Linked DNA regions of Homo sapiens. The protein of the gene in region 1 purifies or fractionates together with the protein of each later gene. This does not show direct contact. Each region holds a gene or a part of one and is shown in the gene's direction. Other genes may lie near its edges.

Region 1 (5,409 bases):
TCCTTTCATCCTGCAGAACTAAAGCTCTGGACCCGTTCAACACTAACTTCTCATTCATCCCTCCCCGCAAGCTCCTGGCAACCACCATTCCACTTTCTGTGTCTGTGAATTTGACTCCTCTAGGTACCTCATATAAGTAGCACCATATAGTATTTACCCTTTTGTGACTGACTTACTTTACTTAATGTGACGTCTTCAAGGCTCATTCATGTTGTAGCAAGTGTAGAATTGCCTTCTAAGGCTAATATTCCATCGTGTGGTTAGACCACATTTTGTGTATCCACTCATCCATCGACAGACACTTGGGTTGCTTCCACCTTCTGGCTATTGTTGTCTGTTAGGAATAGTGCTGCTGTGAACGTGTATGTACAAATAAGTCTTCCAGCCCCTGCTTTCCCTTCTCCTGGGTGCATACCCAGATGTAGAATTGCTGGATCACATGGTGGTTCTATTTCTACTTTTTTGAAGAACCTGCATACTGTTCGCCACAGCAGCTGCGTCATTTTACATTCCCATCAATGTGGGTTCGCGTTTCTCCACTCCCTTGCAACACTTGTTATTTTCTGTGTCTTTGCTGGTGCCATGCGAAGGGGTATGAGGTGGTGTCTCACCGTGGTTTAGACTTGCCTGTCCATGATCGTGAATGATGTTGAGCCTCATTTCATGTGCTTATTGGCCATCTGTGTATCTTCTTTGGAGAAATGTCCAATGGTCCCTTGCCCATTTTTAAATTTTTGGTTATTTTGTTGTTGAGTTGAGATCATCACTGATAACATTGAATGTCCCCCAGAGCAGGTTTCCAGTACTTCCACACCTCCCTCGGCAGATGGCTGCACGTGCTGTCCTCCCGAGGAGGGAGGATCCAGCGGTGCTAGTACCTTCTGCCCACCTCGGCTCCACATCAGTGCTCTAGCCTGTCCTCTTCGTGTTTCTGCACCTTCTTAAGCTAGTGCTTTCAGCCCTCTTGTTTCCTGCCTTCTCCGGTACCTGCCCATCTCTCCGTTCTGTTTTCTGTCTCACATCCTCCTGCCCATCAGCTCCTCCTTACAGACAGGCTCAGTTCCCTGCCTCCCTAACCAGCACTCTTTCTCTGAGACTCGGCACTGAGGGCTTCCTCTGAAAGAAGTATTTCCATAAAATAGGTGATAGTCCCCACTCTAAAGAGAAGCAGGAACGTGTTTCTGTGTGGGCAGTGGAGAGTAGGAGACAGCACATGAAATTCCTTTGAGAGAACAGATTTCTGAGTAAAGCACAGTGAAATGCCACTGCATTTAAGAAACTGGAAGGAAACCAGAACAAGGAAAACTGGATTGCACTCCTTCCATTCTGCATGTTTTGCCTCACTCTGCACCAGTCTCACATGTAGCCAAACTGGGCCTGAGACAGGTGTCAAGGGCAAGCCCATTAGCCCATTGCCTGCTCTTGCCGCCATGTATGCATTTTCTGCTGGCCGGCTGCTTGGAGGGTGGAGAGTCAAGGTTTCTTTGCTCAAGAAGACCTTGGCGCACCAGGTAAATGCCTGCCGGTGTTAGGCTGGAGGAAAGGGACATCAGAAACAGGCTGCTGAGTGGAAGCCAGTCAGAAGTTTTATGAAAACAGCAGCAGCTTGAGACAGCCCATGCTCACAAGAGGGGACCTGTCAGTTAAGCCCTTTCCCCTGAAAGAAGAATGACATTAAACCAGGCCTTGTGGTGCACGCCTGGTGCATGCCTGTAGTCCCAGCTACGTGGGAGGCCGAGGCAAGAGGATCGCTTGAGCCCCGGAGGCTGAGCTTAGAGTTTGGGAAAATCACTTCATAACCTTTCACAAGATCTGAAAGAAATAAGCTTCACATTCTTTCCACACTATGTTTACTTTCTCAACTTTACAAGTTCTTTTTTGTTGTGTTTGTGTGTGATGTTTGTTTTATATTTGAAGGAATATCTTTATCATTTGTTCTCTTATTTAGGATGAATAAATTTAAACATGGCTGTCATTCAGAAACAGAAAAGATTTATAGAAAAATACAGAGACATTGTTCTTTTCTCTGTAAGGTCTGTAAGCTGCTCACAGACATGCCTGGGGTTGAAGAGGGGTTAGTGTTGGATGCTGGCAGAGTATAGATTGCATTGAACTGTATTTAATCTTCTGATTTCAAGCACTGAGATAAATTGAGGTCAGGGAACCTCTGAGACAGAAGTAGGCTCTTTTATCTGGGTCGTTTTAAATGAGATGCTGTTTTTAGATTATACGTAACTGAAAAAAAGAGGCTCGTCTTACTTCCATGTTTTTGTCCCTTCTACAGGTCAGCTCAAGTAATGTCGTCTTGAAGACGGGATTTGATTTTCTGGACAATTGGTAAAATGTATTAGAAAAATACAATGAAGAACCCTAAAATGTTTTCCAAAGTGGTGTGGTGGAGGAGGATAAAAAGGGCCACCTTTTCCTATGTATTTTACTGGTTTCTTGACACTCTTTTCTTAATCATTTGGAAACTGGTCAATATTGCCAGATTTTTTTCTTTTTTGGTAGAACCAGATATATATGCTATTTTCAGTGATTTGATAACAGAAGTTTTCCATTTGGAATTTTTAAGGTCTGTTAATAATTCAGGAGATCTTGTAAATAAAACTTCTGTTCCCAGCTCCACCCAACTTTCCCCCTCCTCAAAGGATGTGTTTCAACCATGTCACAAAAATCATATAAGTGATTTCCATCTCCTTCTCCATTATTCCCCCTCCCCCCTCCGCTTTTTACCGTATGGGTTCCTTTTGGTGGGTGATTGAGGGTGATGTTATCAGCCATGACATCAGCATGCTGGCTGTGACCCCGGAAAGACTGGCCCCCAGCGACGTTCTCAGCCAGCGCTCGCAGCTGTCCGGGGCTTCTCTGGCAGAAGCCATGTCTCTCACATCATGTGCCAGCCTCCACCCTCACGCCATTTCCAGGGAACAGACTGCGGGTATGTAGCAGTGTAGTCTTTAACCTGCTCTGATACATATTCAGAGTATGGATTGTTGTTTAAAAAGAGTTGCATGTTTAAAGAGTTTTGTACTAGCTTTTCATTATTTTGTATCTAGATTATCAACAATGGGGCTACCACTTTCCTTGGTTTTATATCCATTTCCTCTTGGAAGTTCTTGTTGCTTATGTGACCTGTTGGTTGTTCCCCGGACTGGGCACCTACAGGAGTCAGGGCAGACGGCAGATGTGGCTGGAGGTCAGGGCTCTTCTGCTTAGTTGTGTTAGAGTCTTCCAGCATGGGACTGATGGGAGCAGTGGGCATTCTTTATCCCAAGGGCTAGCCAGGTTGCGTCATGACGGACCTTCCCCAGCCCTGACCACCACCAGAAGTGGAAGAGTGGAGTTTGCGGTCAACTCAGCAGTGCCCATGGAGACCTGCGTGGTGTCAGAGCAGCAGTATCTCTTGGAGCTGGTGCAGACACCAAGGCTGCCCAGTGGTACAACGTGGTCCACCTCCCCTAGGGAAGCTGCTGCACTCAGAGGCTGTCCTGCCCAGTGGCCCCTGAGCCGTGTGAGCCTGCAGGAGGCGTCTGAGCAGAGCCTCAAGCCCGGTATGGCGCCATCTCCATGTTGCCATCACTGCGTTCTCACCTGAAGCCTTAATCTTTGCGACACCTGCCAGTGAGCGCTCGGTTTCAATACCAAAGTGTGTCTTCTTCTTTTTTTTTTTTTTTTAAATGCCTGTTTCATAGGACCTTCTGAAATGATTTCCAGAATATTTTATCTGGCTCCAAAATAAAGCACATAGCAACTCACCTCAACCCCTCATCATCTCCAGGAAAGTTTCTGCCAAAGCTGTGGCATAGCCAACTTTTGATTTGGTTCTTGCCAATTGTTTTATGTCCCTAAACCTCATTTGGATCCTTGGGGTATAGTTTTATCTTTCTGCTTCAGTGATTTACTGTAACTTTTCAAATATTGGTTCTTTCTGTACCATTTAAGTATAGTTGATATATGTGAGGCAAAAAAAGGTTTCAGCATGGTGGTGAGGGAAAAAGGAGCTTAGAAATCCCAGTTGGCACAGCCTGGGCAAGCGCCAGCTCCCCTCAGGGCTAACGGCACTGTTCACACAGGGATCCTCAGAATCAGCGGCCACCTGCCTCCACCTTCTGCCTGGAGGGCATGGGGCTGTTGTAGAACCTATGGTAGCAAATGTATATGTATGAGTTTGTATTCTGTAGTGTTGGTGTAGCACAGAAGAAAGACCTGTGTCCTAGAGAGTAGGCCAAGGTGATCTGCCTCTTCTATTGGGAGAAATTCTAATTTCTTTCCCACTTTCTCAACAAGCCCAATATTCCCTCCAAGTTCTTCTTGGTGCTGAGGGCTGTAGGAATTATTGAAAGCTTCTGCCTCACTTAGTATCGTCTGGGGCCCAGCACCCAGCAATAACTCTAATAATGTTTCTTAATGGTATAGCCTCCTGAGATTAAATGTAAAATCAAAAATTAGGAAATCTTGGAGGGAGTCCTCAAGTTGTATTGCTTTGCTGTGCTTTTGGAAGAAGGGACGACCTGGAGGACACAGGCTCCTGTGTGGGTCTTCATCCTGCCTGACCGGCAGATCTTCCTCTACACCTTGGGCAAAGTCTATGCGAAGATGGTTTCTTAGCTCTCCATTTGCCATGATTTTCCTCCCATTCATCATGAGGGAGTTTCTCAAACCAGGAGTTTATATTTATTTTTTAGAAAATACACACTTTTCAGGAGAAACCTGAGCATGATTTTGGATTCTCCACCTCCCCCCAGTCTCTGCACCTGGGATTCAGCTCAAGGATTCAGTGTCTTCATTTTTACAAAAGTTCCCCCAAGAAATCAGCAACCAGCCTCTGTTTCATCTGGGAGCCCCTCCCTTGGCCCCCTGGGTTTGGGGGTGCTGCCCTACTGGGAACAGCGGGGGTCTGTCACCCGTCTGAGCCGCACCCCCCTGTGTGGATTTCAGGAAGAGCCTCCCTTTCTTTGCGTCTCCCTTTCTTTAATTAACATTTTCAAAAGTAATAAATTCTTACTGACGACTTGTAACTTAGTCATATTTTATACTTGTAGCCTTTAATAAAGCCATTTAAAAAATGCTATTTGTGTCTGTGATGGGCCTCTGCTGGTGTCAGGAAGCCTATGGAGATGATTGCAGTTGAACACAAAAGAGAAAAAGGGGTTTGTGCTAGTGAAAGCTAGCTTAAGCCACTTCCGGAAGCCTGCTTTGCAGTCTTGGTGCGGTCCTCTCTGCAGGTTTGTGGGAGGTGATGGCTGCTAGCAGGAGGGGTGGGCTCTGTCTTGGGGGATACTTGCACAGCCCTCGGGTGAAATGGAAGCATTGGCAAGCCTTTCCAGACAAGCTTATTGTATTGAGTGACTGGCTCTGAAAAGCTGCCTTCCTGAAAGCTTTCGTGTTGCATCTAGTCAAAGCTGA
Region 2 (2,692 bases), about 38 Mb from region 1:
TAAAAAGAATGGCCAGCTATTTAAAAGTACAAGAAGGAAAACACTGAGTTTCTAAATCAGAATGCTCAGCTCTATTATTTTCAGCTTAGCTTACAGCAGAACTATGTTTTGTTGGTACAGTGAATAGCCTTGGTTTTCATTACACTAATGCTGAGTTTAAATTCATATAAACAAATTCTAACAAATAGCATACTAGATGATTTGCTTTTAAAATTCCAAACTTAAAAAAATTGTTCACATCTTTCAAAATGCTTAATTTTTTTACATTTTAGAAATATTATAACTTCTAAAAGTACTCTGTAATCTCAGAAACTAGAAATTTCAAACGCTGGTGCCTATATGGTTGGACCTTAGATATTTGTTCAAATTCCCACCTACTTGCTCCTCCTAGTGGCTGCTACTATAATAGCACTTTCATTCATTTACATCTAACACTTTCAATCAATATTTTCAAAGTACTTAACGTTATGTATGTGAATTTTACTTTATAACTATTCAATTACATGAGGATTTCCATGTAAATTCTATTTCCTAGAAGTAATTAAATTTATGCCAAGGTTAAACAAATTTAATATTAACCATGACTCTCTCATTATCACAGGCTAAATACATACATGTATTTATGCATACACTGTAATTTCAAATAAATGCTCCTGTATTAAAACTTTTTAATTGATTTCTTTTGCTTAAAGAAGTAATTTTCATAATAAAAAGTTGGAAAAATTAAAATTACATATTCATCACTCCTTGTCAAAAAGTTTTCTCCTGTTTTAATGGAATTCAAACTATACCTCTTTGCCCACCTCTACTCCCTCGACATATTGGTCCCCAAAAACTAAAAACAACAACAAAAACACTAAGAACAAATGTGAACAAATCTGTGCTATGCACTGAAAACCTTGTTGCAAGATAACATAACCAGTTCTTAATATATGCCATCATGAACCTCACATATTGCCATCTCATAACCTTTTTAAAATATAGGGCTCTAACTGTGCTAATGACAAGTTCTAAAAGTTTAACAAATTATCTGCATGTAAATTTAGAATAAAGCACAACTCAAGGATATTTAAAAATATATTGTGTGAAATTCAGAATTTTAAACAGTTGGTTTCAAAGTAGCTCTTTTAATTCTAACATGGAGACTCAACCAAGATATGTAACAGTGTTCTGCCAAAGCCATAGATAATCAAAGACACTTACATGCTGTATTTTAAAATTAATCTTAAGTCTAAGAACAATTATATCATGAATACTTCATATTTACAAAGAAAAGTTAAAATTTTTGAAAGTGTTAATCATTTATTACTGTCTAAAAATCCTACACTGAAGTTACTAGACCCTGAAAATTAATTTTGACAGGTGCATCTTCTCATTGACTTTCTCAACACAGTAGGGGCCAATGGAAACATGCCAAGCAGTGTACTGTGACTAACAGAACTCTGCCATAATCAACCTTGCACCGTCTGTCCCACAACTGATACATGACCATTTTACAAAAAAGGCCTCTGACTGTGCACCATACCACCAATAGTATGTCAAATCAATTTTAATTAATGCCAATAAATTTTCCATCTGCTCTTAAGGCGTTTTTACACAACCCTTCTCAGAAATCTAGTAACATTTTTCTCGAATACATTCAACTTTTAAATCTTTAACTTGGGTCAAAAGTACAAATGACCAGTGTAACAAGACAATGAAATGAATCCATCACCTCATCTCTTTAAAATGCTCACTGTGCTACAAAGGTATATTTTTAAATAAATTAATCTTGTTCTCAGTGATGTTATGTTGCCAAGGGGAAATAAATTACAAGCTTCGTTCCTGGGTTATATTTTCACAGCTTAAGACATTCCTATTTGCCCTGATCATATTAGTACCCAAAGTCCCTTTCAGGCAGTTCTGTAAACTTTTGTGCTTCATTTTTATAGAATGACTACAAGAGAGACAATGTGACTGAATTAGAAAATGATTGCCAAAGAATAGTATTAAGGAGAAGAAAACATTTTTGGTCACCAATCTCTCATATACCACTACTGGATATTTACAACATGCTTCAGTGGAGGAGAAGACACTGCTGCTTTGCAAAGATGACCTGGAATGCCAAAAGGTCTCTGTTCCGCACTCATCTTATTGGAGTACTTTCTCTAGTGTTTCTTTTTGCTATGTTTTTGTTTTTCAATCATCATGACTGGCTGCCAGGCAGAGCTGGATTCAAAGAAAACCCTGTGACATACACTTTCCGAGGATTTCGGTCAACAAAAAGTGAGACAAACCACAGCTCCCTTCGGAACATTTGGAAAGAAACAGTCCCTCAAACCCTGAGGCCTCAAACAGCAACTAACTCTAATAACACAGACCTGTCACCACAAGGAGTTACAGGCCTGGAGAATACACTTAGTGCCAATGGAAGTATTTACAATGAAAAAGGTACTGGACATCCAAATTCTTACCATTTCAAATATATTATTAATGAGCCTGAAAAATGCCAAGAGAAAAGTCCTTTTTTAATACTACTAATAGCTGCAGAGCCTGGACAAATAGAAGCTAGAAGAGCTATTCGGCAAACTTGGGGCAATGAAAGTCTAGCACCTGGTATTCAAATCACAAGAATATTTTTGTTGGGCTTAAGTATTAAGCTAAATGGCTACCTTCAACGTGCAATACTGGAAGAAAGCAGACAATATCATGA
Region 3 (3,500 bases), on another chromosome or scaffold:
CCGCGCCTGGCCTCCGTTACTTTGTTTTGTTTTGTTTTTGATAAGAATTCTTGCTATGTTGCCCAGGCTGGTCTTGAACTCCTGAGCTCAAGCAATTCTCTTGCCTTAGCCTCCTGCATAGCTGGGATTACAGGCACACACCACTGCACCTGGCATTCCCATGATTTTTGAGTTCATATTTTGTAAATTTTTCTGTTTGTGATGAAAAGTGCTCTTTTTTTCCTTTAAATGTGCGATTCTAAAAGGTTTGCTTCATTTTACTTGTGATTTAATTCTTCCTCAGGTTTGGAATATTCCTGAAAAGAACATATGTCACATGCCTTTCCTCTGTCTGGAGTTCTCCCTGCCTCCATCCTTGGTACTCAGCTTTCAGGTCTCGGCTTTGGTGTTCTTTCCTTGGTAAACCTTTCCTGAGCCCCCATTACACACTTTCAAACTCCAAGCACTGTTCCTTAGTAACATTTATCACAGTTGTATTTATATAATCGTTGGAGTAATTATTTGTCTTCCTTGCTAGACTCTAAACTCCTTAAGGGCACTGACATTGACGTGTCTTAAATGCTGCCTCCCTAGCACCTGACAGATGAGGGAATTTTATACTGGAATTGTTTTTTCAGTATTGACTCGGAAGAAGGAAACTAGAATTTCTCACTCTGGCTGTGCCAGAGCTGGAAGGGATTTGGAGTATATAGCATGACAGGTGAGGAAACTCGCCCAAGGCTTTCTGGAGAAGTTACTCAGTTGTGGCTGGACCTGCATCCTAGGTCAGTGCTGTTCCCTTTGTGCTGTATTTCCCCTTTAAGGAGCACTTCTGTCTTGTAAAGTCCAGGGGGCAGTTTATTCCCAGGGAGAATTGATTTGAGTGGTGTTAGAACTGTCTGAAGATAGCCTGGGGGCTCCTCTTCCCTTCAGTTGGCTCTGGGACCTCAGCATGGCTGCAAGATGCAGAGCAGGGCCACAGTGAACTGGCACGGGGCTGGTGCCCACACACCGAGGTCTCAGGCCATTTTCAAGTGGCATAGAAACACCTTGTAGCTGAAATGGTTGCAGAAATAGATCACAGAACATTATTAGTGACCTTAGATTTTATTTTGGCTAATTGGATATTAGCTAAAAAGGATTCATGTATCTTGTTTTAAATATGTTTGAAGGTTTTAATTAATCTGTTAGTTTATTATCTGTGAACAGGGAAGCATATTATTTGTTAATCAGTAAACTTCAGAGCTTGCTATGTTCCAGGTACCAGTATAGGAGGAGCTGCTTCTAGCCTATACAGTAAGTCCATTTTCTAAATGCATCAGAATCACCTGGGGACACTTGAAAATACAGAATCCTGGGCCCCACCCCAGCCTGTGGGCTCAGAATCTCCTGGGTGGGGCCTGGAAGTCTGTATTTGGATGGAGTTACAGAGGCAGGCTTGGGCGTCACTGCTGTAAGAAATCCAGGAGTGCTCTCCTGCTGGTCTCTAAGACCCAGTTCAGGCATCCTGTCCTCTGGGTAACCTTCCGTGGGGAGCATGATGCCTGGCTCACAGTGGGCGTTCAGGAACTGTTTGACTGTGACTCTTCCATCCAGGCTATTTTGGCTGTGCTGATCTGGGAAAGGCTGCCACATTCACCTTGCTAAAATGCTGCCTTTTTTTTGTCTTTTTCTTTTATTTTTTTTTTGTGATAGAGTCTTGCTCTGTCACCAGGCTGGGGTGCTGTGGTGCGGTCTCGGCTCACTGCAACCTCTGCCTCCCGGGTTCAAGCGATTCTCCTGTCTCAGCTTCCGGAGTAGCTGGACTACAGGCACCCACCGCCACACCCAGCTAGTTTTTGTATTTTTTAGTAGCGATGGGGTTTCACCATGTGGGCCAGGATGGTCTCGATCTCTTGACCTCGTGATCCACCTGCCTCAGCCTCCCAAAGTGCTGGGATTACAGGCGTGAGCCACCGCACCCGGCCAGAATGCTGCCTTTATTGTATCGCTTCCATTCAGAACCTCCAGTGGCTTCTGGCTACCTGTCCTCCCAGGTCATTTCAATGTCCTAGACCCACAGCAGTGGCTGAGCTTCCTGAATTCTTCTCATGGCGCTTTGCTTGCTCTGCTTCTGAGCATCTGTTGTCTTTCTGTCAAGTGCAGTCTCACACTTGTAAAACTTAGATCAAGACTTATCCCTTCCATGTGCCTTTCCTGCCAGATCAGGTTTGACAGAATATACCATGAAACCCCCAAATAATGGTGGCTTAAACAAGGTTGAATTTATGTCTCGTTTCAATGCAGTCCAGAGGTAGGCATTTCTGGGCTGGCATGGGGGCTTCGTGAAGCCACCACGGTCCTCGGCTCCTTCCAGCTCTGTGTTTCACCATCCCTGAGGGTGGCGCTGTCTTCGTGGTCCAGGATGGCTGCCGGGGCTGGGGCCATCACATCTGTGTTGCTGGGTCGCATTTACTCCAGTTTAGCCCAGTGCTGCTGTGTGTATTGTTTCGGGTCCAGTCTCATCACATGGTTCTACTCTACTGACTTCTGGGAAAATGATCACAGTGAACAGGCCTCAAGGCGCCTCTCATGTCTCCTCTCCTTCCCCATGCTGGCCAGCTCTCTGCAGAGGCGGTGGGGCCCACCAGCCACTGCTTGTATGGCCTCCATGGAGCACAGCAATATTGCTTCTTTGTGGTATTTGCCTTGTGCTATCAGCTCAAATCTTAACTGTTCAGAAAGACCTTCCCCGAATCTCTTGTCTAACGCAAGCCTCATGCCAGCCTTCATCTTTCCCATCACCTTGTGCATTTTTTTCTTTTTTTTTTTTTTGAGATGGAGTCTCGTTCTGTCACCCAGGCTGGAGTGCAAGGGTGCGATCTTGGCTCACTGCAGCCTCTGCCTCCTTTCAAGCGATTCTCCTGCCTCAGCCTCCCAAGTAGCTGGGATTACAGGTGCCTGCCACTACGCCCACATAATTTTTGTATTTTTAGCAGAGATGGCGTTTCACTATGTTGGCCAGGCTGGTCATGAACTCCTGACCTCAGGTGATCCACCTGCCTTGGCCTCCCAAAGTGCTGGCATTACAAATGTGAGCCACCGTGCCTGGCCTTTTCTTTTACTCTTTTTTTTTTTTTGAGATAGGGTTTCTGTCTGCCGCGCAGGCTAGAGTAGAGCACAGTGGTGTGATCACAGCTCACTGTAGCTTCAAACTCCTGGGCTTAGGGGATCCTCCTGCCTTAGCCTCCTCAGTAGCTAGAACTACAGGCATGTGCCTCCATGCACAGCTAATTTTTTTTAACTGTTTTGTAGAGATGGGATCTCACCTTCTTTCCCAGGCTGGTCTCAAACTAGTGATCCTCCTGCCCTAGCTTCCCAAAATGTTGGACTGCAGTTGTGAGCCAACACGCCCGGCTGTGCATGTCTTTTATAGCATGTATTCATTTTTTCATGTATTCATTCATAGGGTGTTGTTAAGTGCATATCCTGTGCCAGACACTGTTCTAGGTACTTGTGAACAGCAGGGAACAGAACAAGTT
Region 4 (3,500 bases), about 180 Mb from region 1:
CGGCAAAGGGTTGCCTGGCTGTAGGGTAGAGCAGGTCAACAAGGGAATGGGTGGGGACTGATACTTCAGCCACCTGTGGACCAGGCACCGTGCTTGGCACTTTCTACATCATCTCTTTTAGTCTTCCAGAAATGCTAAGTAACCTGCCTAGGCTCTGCTAAGTGTGTTGTAAATGGAAAAAGCAAATTGGCAAACAGTACGTGTAAGATGGTCCCATTTTTCAGGAGGCTGAGGCAGGAGAATGGCGTGAACCAGGGAGGTGGAGCTTGCAGTGAGCCAAGATCGTGCCACTGAACTCCAGCCTGGGCGACAGAGCGAGACTCTGTCTCAAAAAAAAAAAAAAGATGGTCCTATTTTTTAAAAACAGTGGGCATATGTATGTAATTTCTAATAGACAAATAACTCCCACAAAGTATGTATTTTTATTGTCATGTTACATGTGAAGAAACAGGCTCAGAGATGACCTGCCTGGGTGTGTCCCCAGCTGCCCACCCTAAAGCTTGTGCTTTTCCAGGATCCCCCCTGCCTCTCCCCGAGAGCATCTGCCAGAATTCATTTATGGATGAGGAAGCTGAGGCCAGGAGAAGCTCAGCCATCCCAAGGCACACAGCACATTGAGTCATGACCATTTAGGGCTGCAGGAGACATCAGCTCAATAGAAGATTTGGGTGTGGGAGCCCCCAGGGCCAGGGAGGTATGAGCCTTATTCATGTGAGCATCCTCCAGACGATGGTGGCTGCCTGGGGAGTGCTGTACCCGGAGGACTGTGGAGCTTGGTCCAGGGACAGCAGGGAAAGTGCCATGACCAGTTGGTGCCATGAGCCCTGGGTTGCACTGAGGGGCTGACCCATTCCCAGAGTTCGTGCTTCCCTGGCCTTGGGGAAGGTGGGAAGGGAGGGAGGGAGGGAATTCCCCTGCATGGGGCACTGCATCAGGGCAGTTAAATGTTTAACTCTGTTAAACACTTGCACCAGGCTAGGCGGGGTCGCTGAGTTCTCTAGACTGTCGGGGACTCACTGTTTGGCCCTGGGCACACACCACTTAACCTCTTTGAGCTCCTGCTCTCTCTGCTAGAGGATACCCGCTGTGCCTAACCTCACCAGCTTTCAAGAGTCTCAAAGGCAGTAATAGACATGAAAGAGCTTTGAAAAGGCCAGGAGTGCTGAACAGAAGCCGGGTGTCGCTGTTACACCCCGATGGTGCTGGGCGCTTGTCTGCAGGCTGATCACAATGCCCTCTGTCATTTCAGCTGAATAGCATTGGCAATTACTACAAGCCGTGGTTCTTTAAGCATGTGGAGAACTATCTGAAGACAAACCGAGAGGGCCTGGAGTACATTCCCTTGAGACACTACTACCACCGCCACACGCGCAGCATCTTCTGGGAGCTCCAGGTGAGGCTTAGGTTTCTGTAGCCCTGGCTCCTCCAGGCCAGCTGGGCAGGGAGCCCGGACAGTTAACACTGTAGCCATACTCTCTCCCTTCAGGGTAAAGAGTGGCTTTGTCCTAAGGAACTGCAATGCCTTCTTAAGCAGCAACACAGTCGTTTCCTTCTGAAGGAACCAACTACCTTCAGTTCAAGCAGCAGGCTCTTAGCAAGCATCTGCTTGGTGCTGGGGAGTAAGCCCCTGGGCCGGTACTTTGGGGAACACAGACCTGTTCCGCCCTTGAGGAAGGGTTAGCCTCTAGCCACGGTGAGCAGACAGATCCCTGCACTGTAAAGGGCCGCAGGAACATTAGTAGGAAGTGGCTAGTTCTGCCTAGGGCTCGAGGTAACAGCCAAGCCTGGCTGTGAAAGGTGAGTGAGAATTTGCTGTTGCATGTGTAGATGGGTGGGTGGATGAGGAGCAGTGACACTTTAAGTGGGGGAAGGTCAGGAAGAACCCCTCAGGAGATGACTTTGTGAGCAGGGACCTGAACATAGGGAAGGCAGACCAGGAACAACTCTGGGGAGGACTCTGGAACTCTGTTCACAGGCAGAGGGACAGCCAGAGCCCAGGGCTTGAGCTGGGCTAACAGGAAATTAAACATTATAAAATGGACAGTTCAGGGTAGTTTAGTACATTCACAGTGTTGTGCAACCACTACCTCTGTGTAGTTCCAAACATTTTCATCTCTGAAAAGGAAACCCTATACCCATTAAGCAGCCACTCCCTATTCTCTCCCCTTTCCCCAGCCTGTGGCAACCACCAATTCATCTTCTGTCTCTGCAGATTTACTTATTCTGGATATTTCACATATATGGAATCATTCAGTATGTGCCTTTTGTGACTGGCTTCTTTTACATAGCATAATGTTTTCATGTATCAATATTTCATTTCTTTTTATGGCGGGATAGTAGTTCATTATATGAGAGACCACATTTTGTTTTGTCACTCATCTGTTGATGGACATGTGGGTTGTTTCAACCTTTTGGCTACTGTGAACAGTGCTGCTACAAACCTTCATGTGCATGTATTTGTTTGAATACTTGTTTTCAGTTCTTTGGGATATAGAACTAGGAGTGGAATTGCTGGGTCATATGCTAATTCTGTGTCTAACTTTCTGAGCAACAACCAAACTCTTTTCCACTGAGGCTGTGCCATTTTTCATTCCCACCAGCAATGTATGAGCGCTCTATTTTTTCAACATTCTCACCAACACTTGTTATTTTCTGGTTTTTAAATTATTAGTATTATTATTATAGCCATTCTGGTGGGTTTATGGTATTGACTTGCATTTTCCTTGAAATTAATGATGCTGAGCATCTTTTTATATGCATGTTAACCGTTTTGTATATCTTCTTTGGTGAAAAGTCTATTTGAATCCTTTGCCACCTTTTAAAATTTGGTCATTTGTCTTTGTTGTTGAGATGTAAGAGTTCTTTGTGTATTCTGGATACTAGACCCTCATCAGATATATGATCTGCAAACATTTTCTCCAATTCTGTAGGTTTCTTTTCATTGTCTTGGTAACGTCCTTTGATGCACAGAAGTTTTTAATTTAGATGAATTCCAATTTATCTATTTTCCCTTTTGTTTGTGCTTTTAGTGCCATATATAAGAATTTATTGTCAAGTCCAAGCCCCTTTGTTTTCTTCAAAGACCTTTATAGTTGCAGCTCTAATCTTTAGGTTGTTGAGTGGGGTAGGAGTCCAGGCTCCATTCTTTTGCTTATAGCTATCCAGGTGTCCCAGCAAGGCTGCATGTGTTTGAAAAACAGCAAGAAGCCTTCGGAGCCAGCATGCCCACGCTGAGCTATGGTGAGGAATGAGGTCAAACAGGCACCAGAGGCTAGATCATATGGCTCCTTGTAGGTTAGGAAGGACTTTATATTTTATTCTAAGTATAATAGGAAGCCAATGAGGGCTTTGAACAGGAAAGTGGCATGGCCTGATTTTTGTTTTAAAAGAATAACTGTGACAGCTGGATAGAGTGGATGGGGACGGGAGTGGACAAGAGTGGAAGAGTAGAAGAAAGAAGATACTGTTGTCTGGGCAGCAGCAGAGGAGAAGTGTCAAAT

The links. The genes of interacting proteins can lie anywhere in the genome.
Region 2: the proteins of C1orf198 (region 1) and B3GALT2 purify together in Homo sapiens (co-immunoprecipitation; one large-scale study listed by IntAct). This does not show direct contact.
Region 3: the proteins of C1orf198 (region 1) and XXYLT1 purify together in Homo sapiens (co-immunoprecipitation; one large-scale study listed by IntAct). This does not show direct contact.
Region 4: the proteins of C1orf198 (region 1) and DHCR24 purify together in Homo sapiens (co-immunoprecipitation; one large-scale study listed by IntAct). This does not show direct contact.

The regions. Positions count from the first base shown.
Region 1 is NC_000001.11:230,836,784-230,842,192, reverse strand, and holds the end of C1orf198 (uncharacterized protein C1orf198), read left to right. Parts: intron 1-2,284; coding exon 2,285-2,341; 3' UTR 2,342-5,074; downstream 5,075-5,409.
Region 2 is NC_000001.11:193,180,922-193,183,613, reverse strand, and holds part of B3GALT2 (beta-1,3-galactosyltransferase 2), read left to right. Parts: intron 1-1,931; 5' UTR 1,932-2,051; coding exon 2,052-2,692. UniProt on the Homo sapiens protein: Beta-1,3-galactosyltransferase that transfers galactose from UDP-galactose to substrates with a terminal beta-N-acetylglucosamine (beta-GlcNAc) residue. Can also utilize substrates with a terminal galactose residue, albeit with lower efficiency.
Region 3 is NC_000003.12:195,264,660-195,268,159, reverse strand, and holds part of XXYLT1 (xyloside xylosyltransferase 1), read left to right. Parts: intron 1-3,500. UniProt on the Homo sapiens protein: Alpha-1,3-xylosyltransferase, which elongates the O-linked xylose-glucose disaccharide attached to EGF-like repeats in the extracellular domain of target proteins by catalyzing the addition of the second xylose.
Region 4 is NC_000001.11:54,863,196-54,866,695, reverse strand, and holds part of DHCR24 (delta(24)-sterol reductase precursor), read left to right. Parts: intron 1-1,249; coding exon 1,250-1,393; intron 1,394-3,500. UniProt on the Homo sapiens protein: Catalyzes the reduction of the delta-24 double bond of sterol intermediates during cholesterol biosynthesis.